Homo sapiens: one gene and its partner. The protein of the gene in region 1 interacts with the protein of each later gene in a biochemical or structural test. Each region holds a gene or a part of one and is shown on either strand. Other genes may lie near its edges.

What was found. Proteins that work in one complex are often made in the same cells at the same time.
Region 2: the proteins of RPRD1A (region 1) and RPAP2 interact in a biophysical measurement, tested with the Homo sapiens proteins (one study listed by IntAct).

The regions. Positions count from the first base shown.
Region 1 is NC_000018.10:36,064,537-36,072,357, reverse strand, and holds the start of RPRD1A (regulation of nuclear pre-mRNA domain-containing protein 1A), read left to right. Parts: upstream 1-4,798; 5' UTR 4,799-4,953; coding exon 4,954-5,104; intron 5,105-7,821. UniProt on the Homo sapiens protein: Interacts with phosphorylated C-terminal heptapeptide repeat domain (CTD) of the largest RNA polymerase II subunit POLR2A, and participates in dephosphorylation of the CTD by RPAP2.
Region 2 is NC_000001.11:92,393,043-92,400,065, forward strand, and holds part of RPAP2 (putative RNA polymerase II subunit B1 CTD phosphatase RPAP2), read left to right. Parts: 3' UTR 1-7,023.

The DNA.
Region 1 (7,821 bases):
GTCTGGGCTTAAAAAAAATTCTTTTTTTGTAGAGATGGAGTCTCACTGTGTTGTATACGATGGTCTTGAACTCCTGACCTCAAGGGTTCATTCCTGCCTCAGCCTCCCACATTGTTGGGACTACAGGCATGAGCCACTGTGCCAGCTAGCATAATATTTTTGAGGTTAATCTGTCTTGTATCATGCATTATTATTTCATCTCTTTTTATGGCTGAATAATATATCACACTGGTTTTTTGTTTGTTTATTTGTTTGTTTGTTTGTTTGTTTTTTGAGATGGAGTCTCACTCTGTCACCCAGGCTGGAGTGCACTGGTGCAATCTCGGCTCACTGCAACCTCTGCCTCCTGGGTTCACGCCATTCTCCTGCCTCAGCCTCCTGAGTAGCTGGCATTACAGGTGCCCGCCATCACGCCCAGAGAATTTTTTGGTATTTTAAGTAGAGACAGGATTTCACCATGTTGTCCAGGCTGGTTTCGAACTCCTGACCTCAACAGATCCGCCCGCCTCGGCCTCCCAAAGTGCTAGGATTACGGGCATGAGCCACTGTGCCTAGACCACACTGTTTTGTGTGCTTTTTTTGTTTGTTTTTGTTTTTTTTTGAGACGGAGTCTCGCTCTGTCGCCCAGGCTGGAGTGCAGTGGCGCGATCTTGGCTCACTGCAACCTCTACCTCCCGGGTTCAAGTGATTTTCCTGCCTCAGTCTCCAGAGCAGCTGGGACTACAGGCACACGCCACCACACCCAGCTAATTTTTGTATTTTTAGTAAAGACGGTGTTTCACCATATTGGCCAGGCTGGTCTCGAATTCCTGACTTTGTGATCCACCCCCCCCCCCGCCCCCAGCCCCTTGGCCTCCCAAAGTGCTGGGATTACAGGCGTGAGCCACCACGCCTAGCCTGATATATGTTTTGATATAACTGTAGCTTTGAAGTAATTTTTGAAATAAGAAACTGTGAATCCTCCAACTTTGTTTTTCTTTTTCAAGATTGTTTTGATTATTCAGGGCTCCTTTCAATTCCATATGAATTTTAAGGTCAGGTTTTCCATTTCTGCATAAAAGGCCATTGGTATTTTAACATGAATTGCATTGAATTTGAAGATTGCTTGGGGGTATTATTGCCATCTTAAGAATATTAAATCCTCCAATCCATGAACACAGGATATCTTTCTATTTATTTAGGTATTTGATATATTTCACCAATATTTTGTAGTTTTCAGGATACAAGTCTTATACTTCCTTGCCTAAATTTATTCCATAGTATTTCAGCCTTTTTTGATGTTATTGTAAATAAGATTTTTTTCTTAATGTCATTTTCAAATTATTTATTATCAGTGTATATAAATACAACTCATTTTTGTGTGTTGATCTTATATCCCACAACTTTGCTGAATTTGTTTATCATCTCTAAATTTTGTGGGTGAATTCTTCAAGATCTATATCTAAGATCATATCTTCTGTGAATGGAGACCATTTTACCTCCTGCTTTCCAATTTAGAGACAAGATATAAAAACGAGTCATAAGTATCTAAAGGTATAAATAGTTACAGTCAATATTTTGAAAATATAGCTATAAGTAACAACGTCAATAAATGTAGATCTAACATCCTAGTGCCAAAAGCCATGGTACATTCATACATAGAATGTTCTGGGAGCCTGGAGCAGGGACAGCCAGATTAGACTGTGGACCAAGGAAGACAGAAGAGTTGGTGCTATGACTGAGTCACGGAGTGCTAAATCTAGCTGGAGAGAGAGAATACATATATTAAATTGTAAATAACATAGACTAGTAGTGTAAGTGCTAAATAAGGCATTCAGTAATTAAAAAACACAAGGAAGGAATCTAACATTGACTGAGTGGAAAGAAAAGAAAGCTGAAATTTAAGGCAGAATTTAAGCTGAAATTTTAGGTAGAATTGAGACACAGAGGAAGACAGAGATAGAGAATGAGAAGAGTGGAAATCTCAGGTGAAGACACTGGGAGATGGGAAGTAGTCTTTGGTGGAATGGAATGGAATATTGTTGAAGATACTTTTAAGGTCTCAGGGGATAGATAGGTTTGGACAGCCTCAGTAGCTCACGTTCTATAATCCCAGCACTTTGGGAGGCAGGGACAGGAGGATGGCTTGAGCCTGAGAATTCAAGACCAGCCTGGGCAACATGGCGAGACCCCATCTCTAAAAAAAAAAATTTAAAAATAAGCTGGGCATGATGGTACACCTGTAGTCCTAGCTACTTGGTAGGCTGAGGTGGGGGGAATCACCTGAGCCTGGGAGGTTGAGGCTGCGGTGAGCTGTGATGATGCCACTGCACTCCATCCTGGGCAACAGAGCGATATCTTGTCTCCTTTTAAAAAAAAAAAAGATAGGTTAAACTCGAACTAAGTTAAAGTTAAAAACTAGGCTAAATAGATTGGATAAACAAAAAGATGTATAATGGAGAAAGAAAGAAATGTAAAGATAGGAATAGATATTGGAGTGAAAAGAGGTGAAGGAAGAGTGAACTTCACCTCTACAACGATATCTCTGAACCTCAGGCACAGATATACATATTCTGTTCCTACTTGTTGGAAGTTCTTTCTCTTTTTCTTTTTTCTTTCTCTTTCTTTTCTTTTTTTTTTTTTTTTTGAGATGTAGTCTCACACTGTTGCCCAGGCTGGAAGTGCAATGGCGCGATCTTGGCTCACTGCAACGTCCGCCTTCCAGGTTCAAACAATTCTCCTGCCTCAGCCTCCCGAGTAGATGGGATTATAGGTGCCCACCACCATGCCCAGCTAATTTTTGTACTTTTTGTAGAGATGGGATTTCACCATGTTGGCCAGGCTGGTCTCGAACTCCTGACCTGGTGATCTACCCACCTCGGCCTCCCAAAGTGCTGGGATTACAGGCTTGAGCCACCGTGCCCTGCCCTTCCTTTTCATTTTTTGAGACAGGGTCTTGCTCTGTTGCTCAGGCTGGAGTGCAGTGGCACAATCATGACTCACGGCAACCTCTGCCTCTCAGGTTCAGGTGATCCTCCTACCTCAGCTTCCTGGGACCATAGGCGCATACCACCATGCCCAGCTAATTTTTAAATTTTTAGTAAAGACAGGGACTCACTATGTTACCCAGGTTGGTGTCTAACTCCTGGGCTCAAGCAATCCTCCCACCTCGGCCTCCCAGAGTGCTGGGATTATAGACATGAGCCACACATCTGGCCGCAAAGTTCTTGAACGATGCTTGTCAAAAGATAGTTTAGGAATTCCTATGGTTTCTTATGTATCTTTCTGGAAGTTTCTTGTATTAATATTTAGGGCCAGGCATGGTGGCTTACAACTGTATTCCCAGCACTTTGGGAGGCCGACACAGAGGAGGATTGCTTGAGCCCAGAGGTCGAGACTGCAGTGAACATGACTGAACCACATACTCCAGCCTGGGCAACAGAGTAAGACCCGGTCTCAAAAAAAATTTTAGAATATGATGGTGTATGCATTAGATTAACAATGAGATTTCTGTAATTAATTTTTAACTATATAAGTAATATATTCACGTATTCTTTTTGTAAAAATGAAAACAATATGGACACAATTTAAGGGCTCCAATTCTGATCCTCTCCCTGAGACCAGTATTCATGTGGTGTGTATTCCTCCAAACCTTTGCCATGAGTTTACGTACTTGTGAACCCATATGAACTACATACCTTTAAACAAGAAGTGGTATACTATACTTTTGCTTCTGTAATTAAAAAAAAATCCAGCTGGGCATGGTGGCTCACACCTGTAATCCCAGCATTTTGGGAGGCCAAGGTGGGAGGAATGCTTGAGCCCAGGAATTCGAGGTTGCAGTAAGCTGTGATCATGGCACTGAACTCCAGTCTGGGTGAGAGTGAGGCCCTCTCTCAAAAAGAACCTCATAAAAACCCACTCAAACCCTTCCAAATCCACCATATCTTGGATTAATCCATATTTTAAACTGCTGCATGTATTATGGAATATAGACGTATCTGTGTAGACTGCAACAGTGAATGTTCCAATTTTTCACTGTTACTGTGTTGGACTGAACACCTAGAATAAGCTTCCTGGTGCAAACATGCTGGTGTTTTTTCCAGCACTGACAGCAATTAGTGAAATTGCTAGGAAAGAGTATTCTTATAATTTTTAAATTTTTATTCATTTTTCATTTTTGTGGGTACATAGTAGGTGTATATATTTATGGAGTACATAAGATATTTTGGTACAGGCATGGCAATGCCTAATAATCGCATTATGCAAAGTTGGGTATCCATCCCTTTAAGCATTTATCCTTTGTGTTACAAACAATCCAATTATCCTTTTAGTTATTTTAAAATGTACAATTAAATTATTACTGACTCTAGTCCCCTGTCATGCTATCAAATACTAGGTCCTATTTATATTTAGTCCTTCTATTAGTCCTTCTATTTAGCCCTCCCCCACTACCCTTCCCAGCCTCTGGTCACCATCCTATACTCTATTTAGGAAGGTGTATTTTTAACCGTAATTGGTCATGCAAATAGTCTTTAAAGTGCCTGCCCCAATTTATACCAGTTTACATGCCTATGTAGAGATCTGTAATCACTGCTTCTTTGACAGAGTTTCCATTAAGGAGGGTTCAGGCCTGGCAAACTCCCACCATGCCTCTGAGAGTAACCCAGGCATCACGCCCCTGTCCGCCTCCCCTGCACTTGTTTCGACTCCGCCCCTTCCGCCTGGCGGTTCCACTTCTCGGCCGCGCGTTTTCCCAGGGCTTGCAGCGGGAGGGGCGGGGCGTGGGTCCCTGTGACGTCACTGCCGGCCGGACGCCATCTTGCTGGTTTGCGGCCGGTCTTGGATGAAGCGGCGGCCGTGGTGAGAGCGTGGGGAAGGGTGGGGTGAGGGGGCGAGGCCGCAGCTAGGGCGGCGAAACTCTCCTCCCCTCGGCCCCACCGCGTGGGACGGCGTGAACGTGGTGTCGGAGGGATGTCAGCCTTCTCTGAGGCGGCGCTGGAGAAGAAGCTGTCGGAGTTGAGCAACTCGCAGCAGAGCGTGCAGACCTTGTCCCTGTGGCTCATTCACCACCGTAAACACTCGCGTCCCATCGTCACCGTGTGGGAGCGGGAGCTGCGGAAAGGTGAGTCAACCGCTTATGTCGGCCGCTTCCCACCACCCGGCCGGCCTCCAGGCGCCCCCGGGAACCCCGTTTCTCCAGCGCCCCCGGCTTCCCGGCGTCGGGATGCCAGCGCGCGGTGGTCTGCGGGCTTGGAGGAGCTGCGTGCACCACGCTTCTGCAAAGTCTGGGCTTAGATATTTATTGAATAAAGGAATGAATAATTAAAAAAGAAAACTCCGGTTAGCTTAACACGGAAACAGTAGCAGGGGGTTGGGACTCCACACCCAATTAGGGCCAGAAATTCAGGTGGTCAGGTATTTTTTTCATTCTGTGAATGATAATGGAGGATAAGGGAGGGAGAAGGTAGGGGAGTGGAAAGAAAAAGATTGGTGTGGGTTTGGGAGTTACTTCCGTCATTTCTGTAACGCAGCAACTTATTCTTGTGAAATTAATAGAGGAATAGTTTTAGAAGTCTAATATAAGAAGATGGGTAATGCAGTGGAAAAGACTCTGAATTTGTAGATTTTAGAGGGTCTCAATTGGGCAAGTTTCTTATAACTTCTGCGTTGCAGATGCCTTACCTGAAAAGGAGAGATTTAGAGTAAGTCACCTAAAGTCCTTTCCTATTCTATGATTATATGCCCTAATGCAGTGTCTTTGTTTTGCAAAACATTTGATAGTGTTCCTGTAAATGAAGTAAACTTTTTTGAGATGTCTGTCACTAAAATATTCAGAATCAGTTCATGTATGCAGAGCAACTTTGTAAAAAATTATCCTAGTGCGACTGAAAATAAAAAATTTCATTTGCTTAGTCTGAGCTTGTACTTTAATTCTTAATTCATTGGGTAGAGTGGACACTCTTCATTATTGTTGCAAACATCCTGATGGATATGATGGTTTTTTATCAAGTGTTAAAGGTTTTAACCGTTATTAATCAAAATAGACGCTTGCTTACTGAACCTTGTGAAAGCTATATGATGTATGTACGTAACAGCCAAAATGTGAGCCAAAATGTTGGCTGTATATAATGGAGACAATCTGTCCTTGTATATTGTTTGTGGTTATGAAAACGTCACCCATCCTTGAGAAGAAATTGATTTACAGCCTTGTTTTTCAGTTTATGTGTAAGTATGTGTGTATTGGCCCTGAATGAGGAATTCATCTTCTGTGAGTGGACGGAAAGGTTTCAGAAACACTGATATAAAGGTCTGGAAAGTAGCTGTGAACTTTGAAAAGTCAGGAATTAGCTTTGCTTTTACATTTTACTAGATTTCAGAATCGGTAACAGGTTTATCTTGTTTTTTGTTTTTGCAGAGAGCATTTAGAAACACATGTAATCAGTATAGGGTTGATACCCAGACTCTCTTAATAACTATTACAAATCAGTAAAAAAAAAAAATGGCAGTACTGTTTATAGGCATTTCACGTGAGGAAACCTGAAAGGTCAATAAATGATACTTAATCTTACAAATCAGGAAAAAGTAAGCCAGTGAGGTACCACTTTATGTTCATCAATTTGGCAAAATAATATGACAATATGGATAATTGTTGCAGAGAAACAGGAACTCTTATACCACTTGGTGGGAATGTAAAAATATGTAACTATTTTGTAGATCAACTTAGTTGATGAAGTTGGAGGTATATATTAAATATATCCTTTGACCTAGCAGTTTTCTTTCTAGGAATATATTCTAGAAATAAGTATTGTTCTCAAGAATTGTTTATTGCAGCTTCATAATAACAAAATTGAAAACAAGTGAGACCCTGCCTGTGCAACATAGTGAAACCTTTTCTTTACAAAAAATAAGAAAACAAAAAAACCATTCCATTAGTTTGAGAATGGACAAATAAATTGTGATATTAATAAAATGTAATACTATCGAAAAGTTCTCACGAATGGACTAGAGCTGCATGAAACAACGTGACTGAATTGAAAAACAAACAAAATCTTGAGCTAAGAAAACAAGGTACAGACGAATAATGCTATGGGGGTAAAGTCTAAAAACATGCAAAACAGTACTTCTTTTGTTTATAGATACCTATATTAAAATATGCATAGTAGTGATTAACACCATATTCCAAGATAGTGGTTGTCATAGTGTGTCCAGAATTGGTGGGTTCTTGGTCTCGCTGACTTCAAGAATGAAGCTGTGGACCCTCGCGGTGTTATAGTTCTTAAAGATGGTGTGTCCGGAGTTTGTTCATTCTGATGTTCAGACATGTCTGGAGTTTCTTTCTTCTGATGGGTTTGTGGTCTCGCTGGCTTCAGGAGTGAAGCTGCAGACCTTCACTGTGAGTGTTACAGCTCTTAAAGGCAGTGCGTCTGGAGTTGTTCCTTCCATCCGGAGTTGTTGGTCCCTCTCGGTGGATTCGTGGTCTCGCTGGCTTCAGGAGTGAAGCTGCAGACCTTCGCGGTGAGTGTTACAGCTCATAAAGGCGGCAGGGACCCAAAGAGTGAGCAGCAGCAAGATTTATTGTGAAGAGTGAAAGAACAAATCTTCAACAGCAGGGAAGTGGACGCAAGCGGGTTGTTGCTGCTGGTTTGGGTGGCCTGCTTTTATTCTCTTATCTGGCCCCAGCCACGTCCTGCTGATTGGTCCATTTTACAGAGAGCTGATTGGTCCGTTTTGACAGAGTGCTGATTGGTGCGTTTTATGATCCTTTAGCGAGACACACAGCACTGATTGTTGCATTTACAAACTTTTAGCTAGACACAGAGTGCTGATTGGTGTGTTTAC
Region 2 (7,023 bases), on another chromosome or scaffold:
ACAAAGCTGGAGGCATCACACTACCTGACTTCAAACTTTACTACAAGCCTACAGTAACCAAAACAGCATGGCACTGGTACAAAAACAGATATGCAGACGAATGGAACAGAATGGAGGCCTCAGAAATAACACCACACGTCTACCACCATCTGATCTTTGACAAACCTGACACACACAAGCAATGGGGAAAAGATTCCCTATTTAATAAATGGTGTTGGGAAAACGGGCTAGCCATATGCAGAAAACTGTAACTGGACCCTTTCCTTACACCTTATACAAAAATCAACTCAAGATGGAACAAAGACTTAAACGTAAGACCTAGGACCATAAAAATCCTAGAAGAAAACCTGGGCAATACCATTCAGGACATAGGCATGGGCAAAGACTTCATGTCTAAAACACCAAAAGCAATGGCAACAAAAGCCAAAATTGACAAATGGGTTCTAATTAAAGAGCTTCTGCACAGCAAAATAAACTATCATCAGAGTGAACAGGCAACCTACAGAATGGGAGAACATTTTTGCAATATATCCATCTGACAAAGGGCTAATATCCAGAATCTACAAAGAACTTAAACAAATTTACAAGAAAAAAGCAAACAACCCCATCAAAAAATGGGCAAAGGATATGAACAGATACTTCTCAAAAGAAGACATTTATGCAGCCAACAGACATATGAAAAAATGCTCATCATCACTAGTCATTAGAGAAATGAAAATCAAAACCACAGTGAGATACCATCTCATGCCAGTTAGAATGGCGATCATTAAAAATCAGGAAACAATAGATGCTGGAGAGGTTGTGGAAAAATTGGAACGCTTTTACACTGTTGGTGGGAGTGCAAATTAGTCCGACCATTGTGGAAGTCAGTGTGACGACTCCTCAAGGATCTAGAACTGGAAATACCATTTGACCCAGCAATCCCACTATTGGGCATATACCCAAAAGATTATAAATCATTCTACAATAAAGACACATGCACACGTATGTTTATTGCTGCACTATTCACAATAGCAAAGATTTGAAACCAACCCAAATGCCCGTCAATGATAGACTGGATTAAGAAAATGTGGCACATGTATACCATGGAATACTATGCAGCCATAAAAAAGGATGAGTTCATGTCCTTTGCAGGGACATGGATAAAGCCGGAAACCATCATTCTCAGCAAACTATCACAAGATCAGAAAACCAAACAACGCATGTTCTCACTCATAAGTGGGAGTTAAACAATGAGAACACATGGACACAGGGAGGGTAACATCACACACCAGGGCCTGTGGGGGGTGGGGGGCTAAGGGAGGGATAACATTAGGAGAAATACCTAATGTAGGTGACAGGTTGGTGGGTGCAGCAAACCACCATGGCATGTGTATACCTATGTAACAAAACTACATGTTCTGCACATGTAACCCAGAACTTAAAGTATAATAAAAAAAATAATTATTAAATTTTAAAAAACTAGCCAGGCATGGTGCTGCACACCTGTAGTCCCAGCTACTTGAGAGGCTACATTGGGAGGATTGCCTGAGCTTGGGAGGTTGAGGCTGCAGTTAGCTGTGACTGTGCCAGTGCACTCCAGCCTGGGCAACAGAGCAAGACCCTGTCTCAAAAAAAGAAAAAGAAAAATTCAGAGAGATTAAAGAAGGTATCAAGAAATGTAGACACAATCCATGTTCATGAATTGGAAGATCAAATGTTGTTAAGATAGCAGTTCTCCCCAAATTAATCTACAATGCAATCCCTATCAAAATCACAGCAGGCTTTTTTGAAAAATTGACAAGCCAATCTTAAAATCTGTATGAAAACATAAAGGATTCAGAATAGCCAAAATAATTCTGAAAATGAAGAAATAATTCTGATCCAGAACTTACTACAAAGCTACATTAATCAAGACAGTGTGGTACTGATATAAAGATAGGCATACAGATCAGTGGAACAGAGTCCAGGAATAAACCTTCACATTTATGATCAATTAAGTTTTGACAAAAATCCCAATGAAATTATGGAGAAAAGATGGTCTTTTCAACAAATAGTGCTAGGATATTTGGATATCAAATGCAGAAGAAATTAATTTAGATTCTTACCTCCTACCATATGCAAAAATAAACTCAAAATTGATCACACACCTACATGTAAGAGCTAAAACTATAAAACATGTAGAAGAAAACATGGGAGAAAACCTAGATGACCTTGGTTTAGGAAGAATTCTTAAGACACTAATAGCACAATTCATAAAAGAAAATATTAATAAATTGGACTTCATTAAAATATAAAATTTTGTTTCAAAAAACTATTAAGAAAATTAATTGGCCCGGGGAGGTGGTTCACATCTGAAATCCCTGCACTTTCGGAAGCCAAGGAGGGTGGACCACTTGAGCTCAGGAATTTGAGACCAGACTGGACAACAGAGCAAAATGCCATCTCCACAAAAAATACAAAAATTAACCAGGCATGGTGGCGTGCTCCTGTAGTCCTGGCTACTCAGAAGGCTGAGGTGGGAGGATCTCTTGACCCTGGGAGGCAGAGGTTGCAGTGAGCCAAGATCACACCACCGCACTAGAGCCTGGGTGACAGAGTGAGACCCTGTCTCAAAAAAAAAAAAAAAAAAAAAAATTAATTGAAAAATCACAGACTGGGAGAAAATATTTTCAAACCATAATAAGTATCTGATAGAGGACTTGTATCTAGACTATGTAAAGAATTCTTAAAACTCAAAAATAAGGCAGACAACTTAAAAATGGACAAAATGTTTGAATAGATATTTCAGCAAAGATATACAAATTGCTTAGCATATGAAGAGATGTGTACTATCACTAGTCATTAGGAAAATACAAGTTAAAAGCAAAATTAGATACCATTTTGGACCCACTAAAATGACTATAATAAAAAAGACAGACAAAGATATGTGTTGGTGATGATGTGGAGAAACTGGAGCCCTAATGCATTGCTGGTGGGAATGTAAAATGGTGCAGCCACTTTGGAAAACAGTTTGGCAGTTTCTTAAAAAGATAAACATAAGTTTACCATATGATCCTGCTATTCCATGAGAAGAGAAGTGGAAATGTGTTCACATCAAGACTCGTAGGCAAATGTTCATAGCATTATCATTCATATTAGTCAAAAAGTGGAAACCAAATGACCATCAACTACTGGATTTTTTTTTTTTTTTTAAGAGATGAGGCCTCACTATGTTGCATACTCTGAAGTCAAACTCCTGGGCTCAAACAATCCTCCTGCCTCAGCCTCCTCAGTAACTGGGACTGCAGGCAGGCACCAACATACCCAGATTATTTCTTTTTCTTTTTTTTTTTAACTGGTGGATTTCTTTAAATGATATATGTATACAATGGAGTAGTGATATAGGCTACAATATGGATGCATCTCAAAACATTATGCTTAGTGAAAGAAGTCTGATGCAATATCCCACATATGGTATGTTTCCATTTACAGTCCAGAAAAGGCATATACTAAATTAGCAGTTGCATGGGTCTGATGTGAAAACATGGATTGCCTGCAGATGGGCACAAGGGATCTTTTGGGGGTGACAAAAATGTTCCAAAACTAAGTTGTAATTTTTGCACAACTTTTATGTGTGTGTGTGTGTGTGTGTGTGAGATGGAGTTTCACTCTTGTTGCCCAGGCTGGAGTGCAATGGCGCGATCTCAGCTCACCACAACCTCCGCCTCCTGGGTTGAAGCATTTCTCCTGCCTCAGCTTCCTGAGTAGCTGGGATTACAGGCATGTGCCACCATGCCCGGCTAATTTTGTATTTTTAGTAGAGACAGGTTTTCTCCAGGTTGGTCAGGCTGGTCTCGAACTCCTGACCTCAGGTGATCCTCCTGCCTCGGCCTCCCAAAGCGCTGGGATTACAGGCGTGAGCCACCACACCCAGCCATTTTTGCACAACTTTATAAACTTTAAAAATAATTGATTTATGCACTTAAAACAGGTAAAGTTTATGTGTATAAATTATACCTTAATAAAGCTATTAAAAGTCAAAGATTATAACAGGGCCTCTCTCTCTCTGACCTAGTGACCTAGGGTAAAGAGAAAAAGAAGCTAGCCAGGCACAGGGGCTCACACCTGTAATCCCAGCACTTTGGGAAGCCAAGATGGGCTGATTGCTTGAGTCCAGGAGTTTGAGACCAACTTGGGCAACATAGCAAAACCCTGTCTCCACCAAAAATAAAAAAAATTAGCCAGGCATGGCGGTGTATGCCTGGAGTCCCAGCTACTCAGGAGTCAGAGGTGGGAGGATCACTTGAGCCCAGGAGGCAGAGGTTGTAGGGAGCCAAGATTGCACCACTGCACTCCAGCCTGGGTGACAGAGCAAGACACTGTCTCAAAAATTAAAAATTAAAAAATGAGGGAAGCTGCTGTATCTCCACTTCTTCCCTCTCTGTGCCCAGAGATATCTCTTCAGTTATCTCACATGCCCTACAAGTCTAGAGACCTCAGGTGAGGAGCCAGTAGCTCAGTATAGAAACTAAGGATCCAAGTGGACAACTGCCACCAAGTCACCACAGGGCCAGCTGCTTTGGGAGGGTGCTGCATCTGCCTCCCATACACTTCTGCCAAGTTTATGTTAGTTTGGGAGGACTGAAGCAGAATTCAGTTCAAAGTACTGTGCTGGATTTTGGTTTCTAAATATTTTCCAATAGAAAAGAACCCAGGCTTCTTGAGAAAATAGCTAGGTTCTAAGGCTAGAGCCAAAAAAATGCAAGATAAGCCTGGAGCATCTTGTAGTACCAGAAACTAAGCAAGTGCTCAAAAACAAAAGGATAGAAGCATGTCAGACAGACACAGGAGCCAATCTGAAAGAGCTCCCTGGCCGGGCACGGTGGCTCACGCCTGTAATCCCAGCACTTTGGGAGACTGAGGTGGGAGGATGACTTGAGCCCAGGAGTTTGAGACCAGCCTGGGCAACATAGGGAGACCCCATCTCTACAAAAAAGTAAACAATTAGCCGGGCATGGTGGCACACGCCTATAGTCCCAGCTACTCAGGAGGGTGAAGATCACCTGAGACCAGGCGGTCAAGGCTTCAGTGAGCCATGATTGTGGCACTGCACTCCAGCCTAGGCAATAGAGTGAGACTGTCTCAAAAAATAAAATTTTAAAATAACTGAAGAGTATAACTGGATTGTTTGTAACACAAAGGATAAGTGCTTAAGATGATGGAAACCCTATTTATCCTGATGTGATTATTACACATTGCATGCCTGTACCAAAATATTTCATGTAACCCATAAATATATACATCTACTATGTACCCACAAAAATTAAAAAATGTTTACAGGAGTGAACCACCGCACCTGGCCAGTGGAGTCTTTTTAAGGTATTATTTAGCATCTTCTGCTTATAGTCATGTCCAAAAACCAGTTGATCTTCCTACTCATTAGGGGACAAGATCAATTCTCTAAAAAATTAACCTAGCCCAAGGTAAGTGGTACTATTCTGAAATCTGAAAATCTTTAGTAGCCTCACATTATAAGCCCTTCGTAGAAAAAGAAAAGTAAGCATTTCTAGAAGCACATTTTTGTTGGACTGAGGGTGGGGCAAGGAGCAGGGGTGACTTTCATCTGAAATGTACCTAGGCAGGCCAGAGTCTGAGTTAGGACTGGCTCCTGGGACTTTGCCATCCAGGCCAAGAAGCATGCTCCAGTGTGCATGCACTCTCATCAAAGCCCTAGTCAGGAATCCCAGCCACTCCTCTCCTGTGCAGCACAAGCTGAAGGATAAGGTGTGGGGCAGTGACTGCGTGGGGCTGCCTGTGTGATTCCTGATAAAGAAATGCCTTCATGAAATGTATTGTTCCCCAATAAAGCTCATTTTCTGTGAGAATTCATGTGTCCTTTTCCAAATTAAACTAGCAAAATATGAACTTTTGTAAAAGGTCCACACCCAGCCAGTTTTCTACTCTCTAAATGTTCAGGCCTTTGCCTGTCCTTCCCTCAGCAAAAATACTGTGTTTTGGAAAACATTACCAATAAAGGAGCTGGGAGGTGGAATTGGATCAAAATACCTTTAGATGAAAGCAGCAGCACAAGCCATTCCCTTTAAATGAGCTGGCCTCACCTCTGGGGCCTATGAAGAAAAGCCTGCTTCAAGGTGATAGTTTTCATTTTGCTTCCCAGCACCTCTGCAGTCATAACCAAAGTGAAGGACAATATTGCATGACTTCAGAAGAAAGCCATCCAGCCACCTTGCAACATGTTCAGGAAATTCTGGACTCCCTTGGGGCTTGCAAAACTCCCTATGTCTTGCAGACCAAAAGCAAGTTCTCAGTCACCTAGCTCTAGTTTGCATAATTAAAGAAAGTGGAAGCTGGTTCTTTTCTGGGTGACCCTTCACCCAACCAAGCTCATAAGGACTTGTGACAAAAATAAGAGCAATAAAATGAAGTTTTAACAGTGAAAACTTCTATCACTTAGATAAGCAGGAAAAGCCAGTCCCCTAGATGCCCATCTGACCCTACCTTACTGGGGTCATACAGCCAAAGCAGTGTCCACTTCAGGTACTGTAATGTTTTGAAGTTGACACATATAATTTAATGTAGTTTCATGTCATAAGTTATAAGACTTTTCAGAGAAACAATTTAGTAATATCTTCTGTAATACCCATCTTCATTTTTTATATGAAAAAGCATAGCCTATGATCTGTCACCTTGCTCACTCCCACATCCTTACCTCTTATCCTTCTCACATCGTCCCATTAACACATTATCCATCTTTGGGGGGAAAAAATACACTAAATTTTAGACAGAGTCACTTTCACTATGGCCACAATGGGAGAAAAGACAGTCCACCTTCAAAGTCAACCAGAATGACTCTTAACCTCTCTTGTCTGGGTTGGGCATCCAGATAAGATTTTCTTCGTACAAAGAGTCTTGCTACTAGGAAAAAGAGTTTGAAAATCACTAGTCTAACTAAATATCTCACTTTAAAAAAAGCACAAACTAAGACTCAATGAGGTTTATCTTCCACAAGATCAGCCAGTTTTAGCAGAGCAGTTGCTAAAA